Linked DNA regions of Homo sapiens. The protein of the gene in region 3 interacts with the protein of the main gene of each other region in a biochemical or structural test. Each region holds a gene or a part of one and is shown on either strand. Other genes may lie near its edges.

What was found.
Region 1: the proteins of FAT1 (region 3) and ENAH form a complex in vitro, tested with the Homo sapiens proteins (one study listed by IntAct).
Region 2: the proteins of FAT1 (region 3) and HOMER1 form a complex in vitro, tested with the Homo sapiens proteins (one study listed by IntAct).

What each region holds. Positions count from the first base shown.
Region 1 is NC_000001.11:225,646,373-225,650,126, forward strand, and holds part of ENAH (protein enabled homolog), read right to left. Parts: intron 1-3,754. UniProt on the Homo sapiens protein: Ena/VASP proteins are actin-associated proteins involved in a range of processes dependent on cytoskeleton remodeling and cell polarity such as axon guidance and lamellipodial and filopodial dynamics in migrating cells.
Region 2 is NC_000005.10:79,507,424-79,511,177, forward strand, and holds part of HOMER1 (homer protein homolog 1), read right to left. Parts: intron 3,595-3,754; exon of another isoform or gene 2,964-3,594; intron 1-2,963. UniProt on the Homo sapiens protein: Postsynaptic density scaffolding protein. Binds and cross-links cytoplasmic regions of GRM1, GRM5, ITPR1, DNM3, RYR1, RYR2, SHANK1 and SHANK3.
Region 3 is NC_000004.12:186,619,167-186,622,920, forward strand, and holds part of FAT1 (protocadherin Fat 1 isoform 1 precursor), read right to left. Parts: intron 2,610-3,754; coding exon 1-2,609.

The DNA.
Region 1 (3,754 bases), on a different chromosome or scaffold from region 3:
CTCATCTCCCCGACCCCAGGATTCCCATACCCACCCTACCATGTGAGGACACAGAGAGAAGGATATCTTCTGCAAGCCAGGAAGAGAACCCTCACCAAAACCCATCCATACTGGCAACCTGATCTCTGACTTCCAGCCTCCAGAACCTTAAAATAAATGTCTAGGCCGGGCGCTGTGGCTCCCACCTGTAATCCCACGAGGTCAGGAGATCAAGACCATCCTGGCTAACACAGTGAAACCCCATCTCAACTAAAAAATACAAAAAAATTAGCCAGGCGTGGTGGCAGGCGCCTGTGGTCCCACCTGCTCAGGAGGCTGAGGCAGGAGAATGGTGTGAACCCGGGAGGCAGAGCTTGCAGTAACCTGAGATCGAGCCGCTGCAATCCAGCCTGGGCGACACAGTGAGACTGTCTCAAAAAAATTAATAAATAAAAATAAAAAATAATTTTCTGTTGTTTAAGCCACCCAGTCTATGGTATTTTGTTATGGCAGCCCACACTAATACTTCAAGAGTATCATACACTACCCAGTGATTGGTATTTGAAGCACTGATAAGAATCAAAACAAAGCAGGGCTGGGGGCGGTGACTCACGCCTATAATCCCAGCACTTTGGGAGGCTGAGGTGGGCGCATCACGAGGTCAGGAGATCAAGACCATCCTGGCTAACATGTTGAAACCCCATCTCTACTAAAAATACAAAAAATTAGCTGGGCGTGGTGGCACGCGCCTGTAGTCTCAGCTACTCGGGAGGCTGAGGCTAGAGAATTGCTTGAACCCAGGAGGCGGAAGCTGCAGTGAGTGGAGATCATGCCACTGCACTCCAGCCTGGGCAAGAGTGAGACTCCATCTCAAAAAACAAAAACAAAAAAAGAATCAAAACAAAGCAAGCACTAAATGGGGTAAAAATAAATTAAACCAATAGAGATGCATATGCTTGTTACTTGAAAATATTTACAAGTTCTTTGGTCAAAGAGACTTAAAAACAGATTGATGGCCCTTTCAGTAATTCAGAATTTAATCATAAAGTCAAGTAAACATGGTATCCTCCAAAGGGCTTAGAATTTAGACAATCCTGACACTTGTAGCCACTTCCAAGCTCTGTGTTAGAATAAGAAATAAATTCTGGCCAGGTGAGTTCAAAACCTGCCTGGTCCACATAGCAAGACCACATCTCTACAAAATAAAAATTAAATTAAAATTTAAAAAAGAACAAAAGAAAACCAAATTCTACACCTATTCCTGGAGTCAGGATGTGAGTTTTTGCTTGCTTAATTAAATTATGTTATTAACATTTAGTATCCACCAAATACTACACTACACCCTACAATATCCAGTAGAGCTTCTAGAACACTACAGGTATTCCAAAAATGGGGTTGCTAGTGAACAGATTCTATAAAAGAGCAACGCAGTCAAAGTCAAACACTTACACAGGCCACCCACTATTTGCCAAGTATTTTGCTAGTACCATGAATATAAAAATGCTAGTATTTTGCTAGTACCATGAATATAAAAATCCTCTTCAAGGAACTTACAATGAAGAGGGACAAAAAGAACCACATAATTATAAGACAGAATAAATTCAATAGCAAAAAAACATGTAAAGTGCACTGGAACACACAGGAATAGTGGGGGACAAGGGGGTTGGGGGAGCATGTTAGGGGCAAGTCAAGGACTATATCCCAGGTCTGACAAGGAGTCCCCTTCTTGTTTCTAGTCAGGAAAATTTCGTAAACCCTTATCTGAAGAAGCATCCACTGAAGTACAGCCTCAGCTCATATTCTCTAACTTTTACTTCCACTTAATTCCATTCATCAATTTCAAACAAGGAGGAGAAAAAAGAGGAAAAGACAACTTTAAGTTGGCACAAGTAGGGTTTAAATACCCTTTTACTCCCCTACAACCATATAAAAATTGAAATCACATTTTTTCAAATCTTTCTTACACTCATGATACAGACTAGATATTTTACAAGTTATACAATCACCTGTTTTAAGCCTTCTGTAAGATAAATCACCAAAACCTATTCAGTATGTAATTTCTTCTATACCAGCCAAATGGTGCCTCCATAGTTATTTTGCTTAATCCAACTGGGCCAACAAGGTATCCAACACCTTGAATACTGAATAAACTTTAGTGAATTTTCTCTATTAATCCACACTCTTCTTCAAGATTTATTCACTTAGTAAATTCCTACAATACTGACATTCAAAAAATGAAGATTTGGCTCTTGCTCCTAAAATAAACCTCTGTGGGAAAGTCACACATCCAACAGCTACGAGTATAAATGAAGACCCATGGGAACAAAGAGACTACTATTTGTATCCTTTCATGGATATCTCACTTGACACTTCACAAAACAATCCTGTGAAATATAAGATTATCTCCTTTTTTTTTTTTTTTTTTACCAGTTTACTCAATTAACAGGTCAGCATATAAAACCTGGATCTTCTGACCCTTGATTGTACCACACTCTGAAATGTATATAAAATTTATGATTACCACAAATAAAGATACTTCAAAGACCCTAAGGAAGGAAACACAGAAGAAGGGAACAGCTTCCTCACCTATAAAATAATAAAAATGTGGTCTTTTTGACATCCTTGAGCTAAATAAGGTCGCAAGGTGGAGCCCACTGCCCAGAAGTTTTACCCAAATAGTCTAACATAGAAATAGGCCTGGAAACAGGAGGAGTAACATAAATTTAAGGCTTACCAGTGTATAAAGTACCTTCTATTATCATTTGATCCTCACTACTCAGTTAAGAATTATCTCTATTTTTACATATTTTTTAAAAAGGCATCAGTGAAATAATGTGATTACTTCAAGGTCACCCAGCTAGTAAATGGCTTGGACAAATCCTCATAACCCTACTATACCTTTTTATATGAGAAAGTCAGAGTAGCTAGTGGAAGCCTGGACTATTTTAATACGGATCCAAGAATGTAAATACAAAATCTTCTGAGCTCTCCTTAGCCACCAGGCTACATGCAACTATTTTAGATCAGACAAGCTCCTCTTTCAGTTAAAAAAAAAAAAAAATCTTAAGTAACAAACCAACTAATTTTAAAAATGCACTTAAAAGGCACACACTGTATGTACATGCATACAAACGCATTCACATACATACACGCACACTTTAATCACAAAGCATCTTACACTTTTGAAACATTGCATAAATGAAAAATAAGAATAGAACTAAACAGACAGGACACTAAAAGTACCAGCTTTTTGGTCTCAACCTTTCCACTGTCCTGTATAAGTAATATGCTTTTTCATTTTTTAAATATTCATCTTTAAGCAAAATATTAACAAGTAAATCTATATACTGCATTTTACTCAAATGCCTATGACCGTTTCAGGAACATAAACTATTATTCAGTTCTCTTCTGTATAAGATTATACACAGTGATCATGCTATTCCTAAAATTAAAGTCATCTGACAGATACCACTAATAGTTATACCGTAATATATTCATCATATCCTCTGTTCAGGATTCTGACCGACTTAATTGGAAATTCCTGTTCAGGCATTCCTATTTCTGGATGGCCTTTGAAACATCAGAACTACCTCTTAATATAACCAAAAAGGACTCAACTTAAAAGACTAACATTAACGTCCCACAGGACTTGAAAGCATGAAGACTAAGCATATATTAATATAACCTGAAAAGCACTTCCTAAGCACCAAAATATCCCAAAGAATATTCCAAAGACTTTTGCAAGCAGCACAAGAACGTTTTATCCCATACCAAT
Region 2 (3,754 bases), on a different chromosome or scaffold from region 3:
CACTCAACTTTTCAAAAACAAACAGAAATATTAGCCACGGGTCATAAGGCATTACAAATATGCAACACAAAAAAACTGCACATTTCATTCCACGAGATACGACCTGAGATATAAATCTATGTAAAATGTTTTATAGTCATTTAAAAACTACATCAGAAAAAAATTATATCAGAAAACATTAAGCACTCGGCACTCATTTTCCCTACTCTTCTGTCCAGTTAGTCATATTAATCTGAAATAACAATCCAGTAACTAAAAATAAATACTTCAACTAAACACTAAAGACTGAAAAAAAAAAAAATCACATGGCAGTAGAGAGGTTAGACCTTTTGGGATATAACCACCTTTTCTTCTGAGATGTTTAATCACTCAAAACTATAAACTATGAATAAGGACAGTTTCTTCTGTCAACCCCTTAACTCCCAAATTCACTATTTTATGACCCATAGTTAGTGACTCTGCTAAGAACATACCATGCTCTTTGCTACATTCTTACCTCTCCAATGAAATGTCCTAATTCTGAAAAAGCCCCGTTCAGCCAACTACACATCTCTCAGTCACCATCCCTCCCCTCCCCACTTCGGAACCTTCCAGGGCCTGCCCAACTGTCCACTTCCTCTACCCAGCCAGAGTTCATTGTTCTGGCTTGGTGTTTCCACAGGATACAAGACACAAAACCAAATTGTAAATGATTTTTAAAATTGCTTTCTTATTCTACTTCCCTGATCATGTTCTTACTCTGCTTAAAACCCTTTAGTAATCTTCACACAGAAGAGAAGTGCTTTTCAAATTACCAGTTGCTAACACAGCGTCATTAAATAAATTGAGTGGGTCACCATCATCAGTCTATCTTAAAAATAAAATAGAACGGAACAGAATAGAAACTACCAGAGTGTACCATACAAAGCAAGGGTATTATGTAGTGACATTTTATCATTTATATACAAGCATATTGGGTTGCAATGTAAAGATGCTTATCTTTCCAACGGGTCATAGCCAAAAAAACCTCTAAACACACTAAACTACAGGATAATCCAATCTTTCATTTGATCTACATGGTTCTCCAACCCAGTCCCTGCATAATAAGGCTCTAGACCTATCTCTTGCTACACCAAAGGGAGCTAGCTCAAGCAAACAAGCTTGTCATGCCAAACTCCTTTGCAGTTCCTCGTTTTAGTGGTGTCAATCACTGTTCTCTCTGCCTTGAATGCCCTCTTATTTGTCTAAGAGGCTCACTTGTACTCATCTTTCAGTATTTAACAACTATCACCTCCTCTACAAAGCCTTTTTATCCTTCCCTCAGCAGCTAATGCCCCCCCAACACACACTTTGTGTCTCCATAATGCCCTACATTATAGCTCCTACAAAATTTCATTGCACATTTTAATTTTAGGCTTGACTGTCTGCCCAACTTCCAAAGTATAAACTCACTAAGGGAAGGAGCACATTGTATTGGCCTTCCTATCAGCAGCACTGAGGTAAGTACACGCACTATAACAAAGGTTCAAAGTTGGTAAAATGAACAAATGACGAATTAAGGACTTGCATCTAAGTTGTCTATTGTCAGATATGATAGGGTGGTTATCTTTGCAATAAAACCCATTTATAGTGCTGGATCAAGATTTTCACATTTTTGCTACAACCCCTAGAGAGCAGAACCCTGCAGTTTGAGGCAGAAGGAGGTGTCAGCTTCCCATCTTTCAGCAAAGAGACTCAGTTTGGGCTGCAATGTAGCAGCACTCATTTCCATGCTTCTGGAAGTTATTTGGGGAAAGAGGGGAAGGAAGGACTCCAGAAGTTCCCATAGGCAGGTGAGATAAATCAGAAACAGCATTAACAGATTCCATTAGCAGGGAGAGCCCCATTTTATGTATAAGTAGCTCTTAATAAGGGAAGGGAGGGAAAGAATTCTTTACCATTGCTGATGGCACTAGGTTGCCAAAATGAGCTAAGTAAAAACAAAGGGTTTCATGAAATAAGTGGTTGAAGTTACTTGATTTCTGTTGCCTACTGTGATAGTTCTGAAATAGCTACTGACTCACTGCTGTCATTATGAGATACTATTTGGAGGTGGGGGTGGGGGTCATACCTAACAGGGGCTCCTCACTGAGGCTTCAAAACTTTTCAGAGACTTCATTTTACATACATGAATGCCTTAATTTTTAGGGGATCTGATACACCTATTTTACAAACCCATACTTTAGTTGCCTTCACTGCAATTAACAGTTCATGCAACATCCAAGATACTTTGACAGACTTTGCCAACTGTCAAGTTTCAGCTGTTCTTCTCCATTTCCAAAAAGTTCATAAACTACTATTAGGGGAGCCATAATTTTTTTCTGCCCAATCACTGATTTTATTAAAAATAATTCCTTTGCTTAGACTGCCCCTAGACTTGCAATAATTATCTACAATTAAGACGAAGATAAATCCTTATTATAACCTAACATTAGTTTAAAAAAAGAAGGTTGTAATATGTGAAACACTTTACCCACAGTATTAAATTTTAGATATCTATTACAGTAAGGTAATTATGGATTGCCAAGGTAAAGCTTTAAAAGCCATTTAAAGCCCTGTTTCCTTTTGCTTGAAATAGGTCCAGGCAGCTATGCTAATTCCACAAACATTTATTAGGCATAAATACGCATAAAGTGTGGAAACGTCAGCAAATGCCTTTGCTGTATGCTCTTCTACTTCCATCTACCCTTCCTCTCTCTACTCAAGTCACTATCAATGAGAAAGGGTCATAGCCCCAAATACAGGCTTTCCAAAAAAAAAAAAATAGCACCACAAAATGCTCGCTCCTTTTTCTCCTCAGTCCATATATAGAACTTTATTAACTAAAGGGCAGATACATTCATTTATAAACAAATTAATTATGCTAAGTGTCTAAATGCATGTTATGTGTGGTGCTAACTTTCCCACTTTAAACAACAGCCCCCTTAGTATTAAATTCATCCTGTCTCTTCAGATTCTAGGCGCTTCAGGAGCCGCGCCTTAAGGTGCAGACATGGCCAAGTCCAAGAACCACACCACACACAACCAGTCCCAAAAATGGCACAGAAATGGTATCAAGAAACCCGAAGCACAAAGATACGAATCTCTTAAGGGGGTGGACCCCAAGTTCCTGAGGAACATGCAGTTTGCCAAGAAACACAACAAGAAGGGCCTAAAGAAGATGCAGGCTAACAGTGCCAAGGCCATGAGTGCACATGCCAAGGCTATCAAGGCCCTCCTAAAGCCCAAGGAGGTTAAGCCCAAGATCCCAAAGGGTGTCAGCCGCAAGCTCAACTTGCCTACACTGTCCACCCCAAGCTTGGGAAGCATGCTCGTGCCCGCATTGCCAAGGGGCTCAGGGTGTGCTGGCCAAAGGCCAAGGACAAGGATCAAACCAAGGCCCAGGCTGCAGCTCCAGCTTCAGTTCCAGCTCAGGCTCCCAAAGGTGCCCAGGCCCCTACAGAGGCTTCAGAGTAGATATCTCTATCTGCCAACGTGAGGACAGGACTGGTGCGACCCCCCGCCAGGCTGCCATCTGCATGGGGCTGTGGGGCTGGGGTCCTCCTGTGCTATTTGTACAAAGAAACCTCAGGCAGGGAAAAAAAAATTCATCCTAAGCTTCCCTTGGTAAAATGACAGGCATTCATGCAGCTTAAAGGTTCTGGAAAACTGATTTTCTTCCATGATGCTACTACTCCACAGTCTAGACAAAATGCAGCCATCAACATGAAAAACTGCTGCTTGATTTTTTTTCCTC
Region 3 (3,754 bases):
TCTAAAAACTCCATCAGACACTGACAGGTTAAGACTGTAAAATGGCTTCAGGGCGTGCCGGTGCAGGTTTGAGAGGGTGATAATCCCTGTTGCACTGTCAATGACAAAATGTTTATGATCATTGCCAGACAGAATGGAATACTGCAACTTGTCTATGTCTGAACTGTCTGCATCATAGGCTTTTACACAGGTCACGAAATGCCCATGAGGGGCGTGCTCGCTAATTCTGGCTTCATAAATCTGTTGTTCAAAGAGTGGTGGATTATCATTGAGGTCGGTAACGTCCACCGTGACAATCACATCACTGCTCAGCGTGGGCATACCACCATCAACTGCCCTCACAAAAATCGTGTGCTGCCGGGACTGCTCGTAATCCAGGGTTCTGAGTAGTGAGATGAGGCCAGTGCTGCTGTCTACATGAAAATGATCATGACTCTTGCTGTGATTCCCAAACATCTGGTATGAGATTCCTCTATTTGGTTCTGAATCAGAATCGGTGGCTCTAACTTGAACAACAGACGTTCCAATTACAGATGCCTCAGACAGGGTCACCGCATAAGACTGCTGAGCAAACACAGGAGGGTTATCATTGATGTCGTCTACTATGATGTCCACAAATACTTCAGCATGAGCGCCCGTCAAGGAGTCAGTTGCGCGTATGCTCAGCTTATATGCCGGGTGGGCCTCAAAGTCCAGAGGAGCTATGACATTGATAACTCCAGTATTGAAGTTAATAGTGAACTGGCTGAAAGGGTCTCCGTCTGTGATGCTGTAGAACACTTTCAGGCCTTCCGGGCTGTTAGCCTGCACGTGGACCACAGGGCTGTGCACCTGGATGCTCTCTGCAATCTCTGCACTGTAGAAAGGTTTTTCAAACACAGGCATGGCTTTATTCATGACAGTGATCGGAACGATAACTTCCGCTGAAAAGGCCGGGTTCCCTCCATCTTTTGCAACCACTGTAACAAGATATTCTTTATTTAAGGTGTCAAGCTCAAATTGCTTTTTCAGTGAAATTTCACCCAAGGGTCCAATTTGAAAGTGTTCATGATGTTCCTTGAGGTAGTAATGCACTTCCCCGTTTCTGCCACTGTCTCTGTCTACAGCAGTGACATAGCGAATGACATGGCCCACCTCAGTGTCCACTTTAACAACGGCGTAGTAGGGAAGGTTGACAAACACCGGCGCATTATCATTTTGGTCTTCTACAATGACCTTCACGACAACGTGGGCCACTGCAGAAGGCTTATGTTCCTCTGTCACTTCTACAACCACATCAAACGCCTCCTGCTGCTCACGATCGAAGGGCGTGCCAGTGGTTGACAGAACTCCTGAAGTGCGGCTTATTTTAAATCTGCGATCTGGGTTGAGGATGTGATAAAACAAAGGCTCATTGATTGGATTCCCAATAGCAGTAATGACAGCTAATGTTTCGGCCTCGGTGGAATTCTCTTTCACTACCGCAGAGTAGACATCCTGGGTAAACTTTAGGTGACTTTCTTTGCTTTCTTTCACATTAATTTTGACAGAGGTAAGGCCGGCAAATCTGCCATCGGAAGCTCTAACGGTTAGCTCGTAGCGGCTTCTTAACTGAGTTGTGTTTTGGACAGTGAGAGCACCAGTCTTGTAGTCCATAGAAAACTTCTCCCCGATGTTGCCTTCGGTGATGGAGTAAATCAACTGTGAGAATGCACTTGAATCAGCATCTGTAGCATTTACTGTGATGACTTTTACTCCTTTGTATGTTGGTAACAAAAGAGATGCTTCATATAATGGCTTGGCAAACACAGGGGGGCAGTCATTAATGTCAATTACATGTACTGTTACATTCGCTGCATACTCAGCAAATAAACGTGGGGTTCCCATGTCATGCACTTGGACGGTAAAGTGAAAAATACTTGTTTCTTCATAGTCCAGACTTAGTACTGTATGAATAGCACCAGTGCTAGAATCAATAGCAAAATATGTGTGTACAGATGGTTCAACAATGTGATATACAAGCAAAGCATTTGAGTCTTTATCAGCATCAGCTGCTCGAATCACCAGTGGGACATTCCTGTCTGTTAGGACCACGCTGTTAATTGAGGCTGATTCACTAATGAGTCCTGTATATTCTGCCTGCATAAAAACTGGCGCGTTGTCATTCTCATCCTGCAAGTGAACTAGAACCGTTGTATTAGTGGACAAACCAGCCATGTTAGTTCCTTGTATTATCAATGTGTAAATGGGCAAAGTTTCAAAGTCCAGGGCTTTCTGAGTGATGATAGTTCCAGAATGTGGATTAATATCAAAAGCATCACCTGTATTTCCATCTTTTATTTCATACACCACTGATGATTGACTATGGGCTGTAACCATCCCAACGAAACTCCCAATGCTGACAGTTTCACTAAGTTCAACAGAATATTCTTTTGATGTAAACTTCGGAGAGGCGTTGTCAGCAATTGTGACAAAGATACGCACAGAAGTTATTTCACTCATTGGTGGACTGCCCTTATCTGTAGCTTTTACCATTAAATCATACTCCGCTTGGTTACTTCGATCTAATTCTTTGGCAGTTTTAATAGAGCCCAAGACAGGATCAATCATAAAAGAATTTCCAATATTTCCTGGAAGGAGAGGAAAAAATACATGTTACAGAAAAACACAAGGGGCAGTAGTAGTAGTAGTTAGAGAAACAGAAACAAAGTATCCTTAAAAATTATATTCTGAAATTAAGCAGAAACTCAGGGGATGTCAATATTTGAATGGAACCTTCAACTTGTTTTATTTTTATCCACCTAAAACCAGGTATACTTTACAGAATTTTGTCCATAAATGATGAAAAACAAAAAACAGAAGAAACAGCACTCTGCTCTTAGCGAAGCCAAAACTCCCTCTCTCGGCTGCACTGGGAATGTGTGGTGGAAAGACAAGGCTATCCTTCCACAAAGCAGTTGAGTGAGTCACTTTCCAGGAGTCCCTCAAAACACTTCTGGACCACATTTGTATTTTCAACGGTTATGACTTACAAATTCTTAAGATATGTATTCATTACGAAAGATTTCGATTCAGTAAGAAATTGACATCAAGCTTCAAGAGACAATTGTCCATGGATAAATGTGTGTAACCCACCCCACTTTACAGGTTTTGAAGATTGCAACAACATTCCCTTCTTATCTTTTTCAGGTCAACTTATCCTCTAGGTCAGTGGTTTTCCCCTGGGGGCAATTCTGCTCCCTAGGAGACATCTGGTAATGCCTGCAGACATTTTTGGTTGTCACTACTTGTCGGAAGAGGGTGCTCCTGGCGTCTCGTGGGTGGAGACCAGGGGTGTTGCTAAGCATCCTACAACGCACAGGACAGCCCTACACAACCAAAAATATCTGGTTCCAAATGTCAGCAGTGCTGAAGCTGAGAGGCTGCTCAAAGATAGAGTGTTTTACCTCCTTTTCTTTGGACCTTTTCAGGCTATACTGTATGTATCTTTAGCTGCAACCACAACTCCAGAATATTGTATAATTTTGTATCATCGACTGAATCTTCAAAGAAACAAGCAGTTCTCTACAGCCCTTTTGGATAAATCAGGGTGGCGTTGCAGGTTCTCAGGTTTAATCCATCCACGAGCCCATCCTTTTTCTGTTTCATGAACAAGCACCCAGAATTCACCATCCCTGTCATAGCACAGAATTTATTTTCCCCAAATGAACTATTATACTTACCCAAAACAAAGCTCACTTGCCACTTAACTGCTTTCTCAGATTCTTGCTCTAGG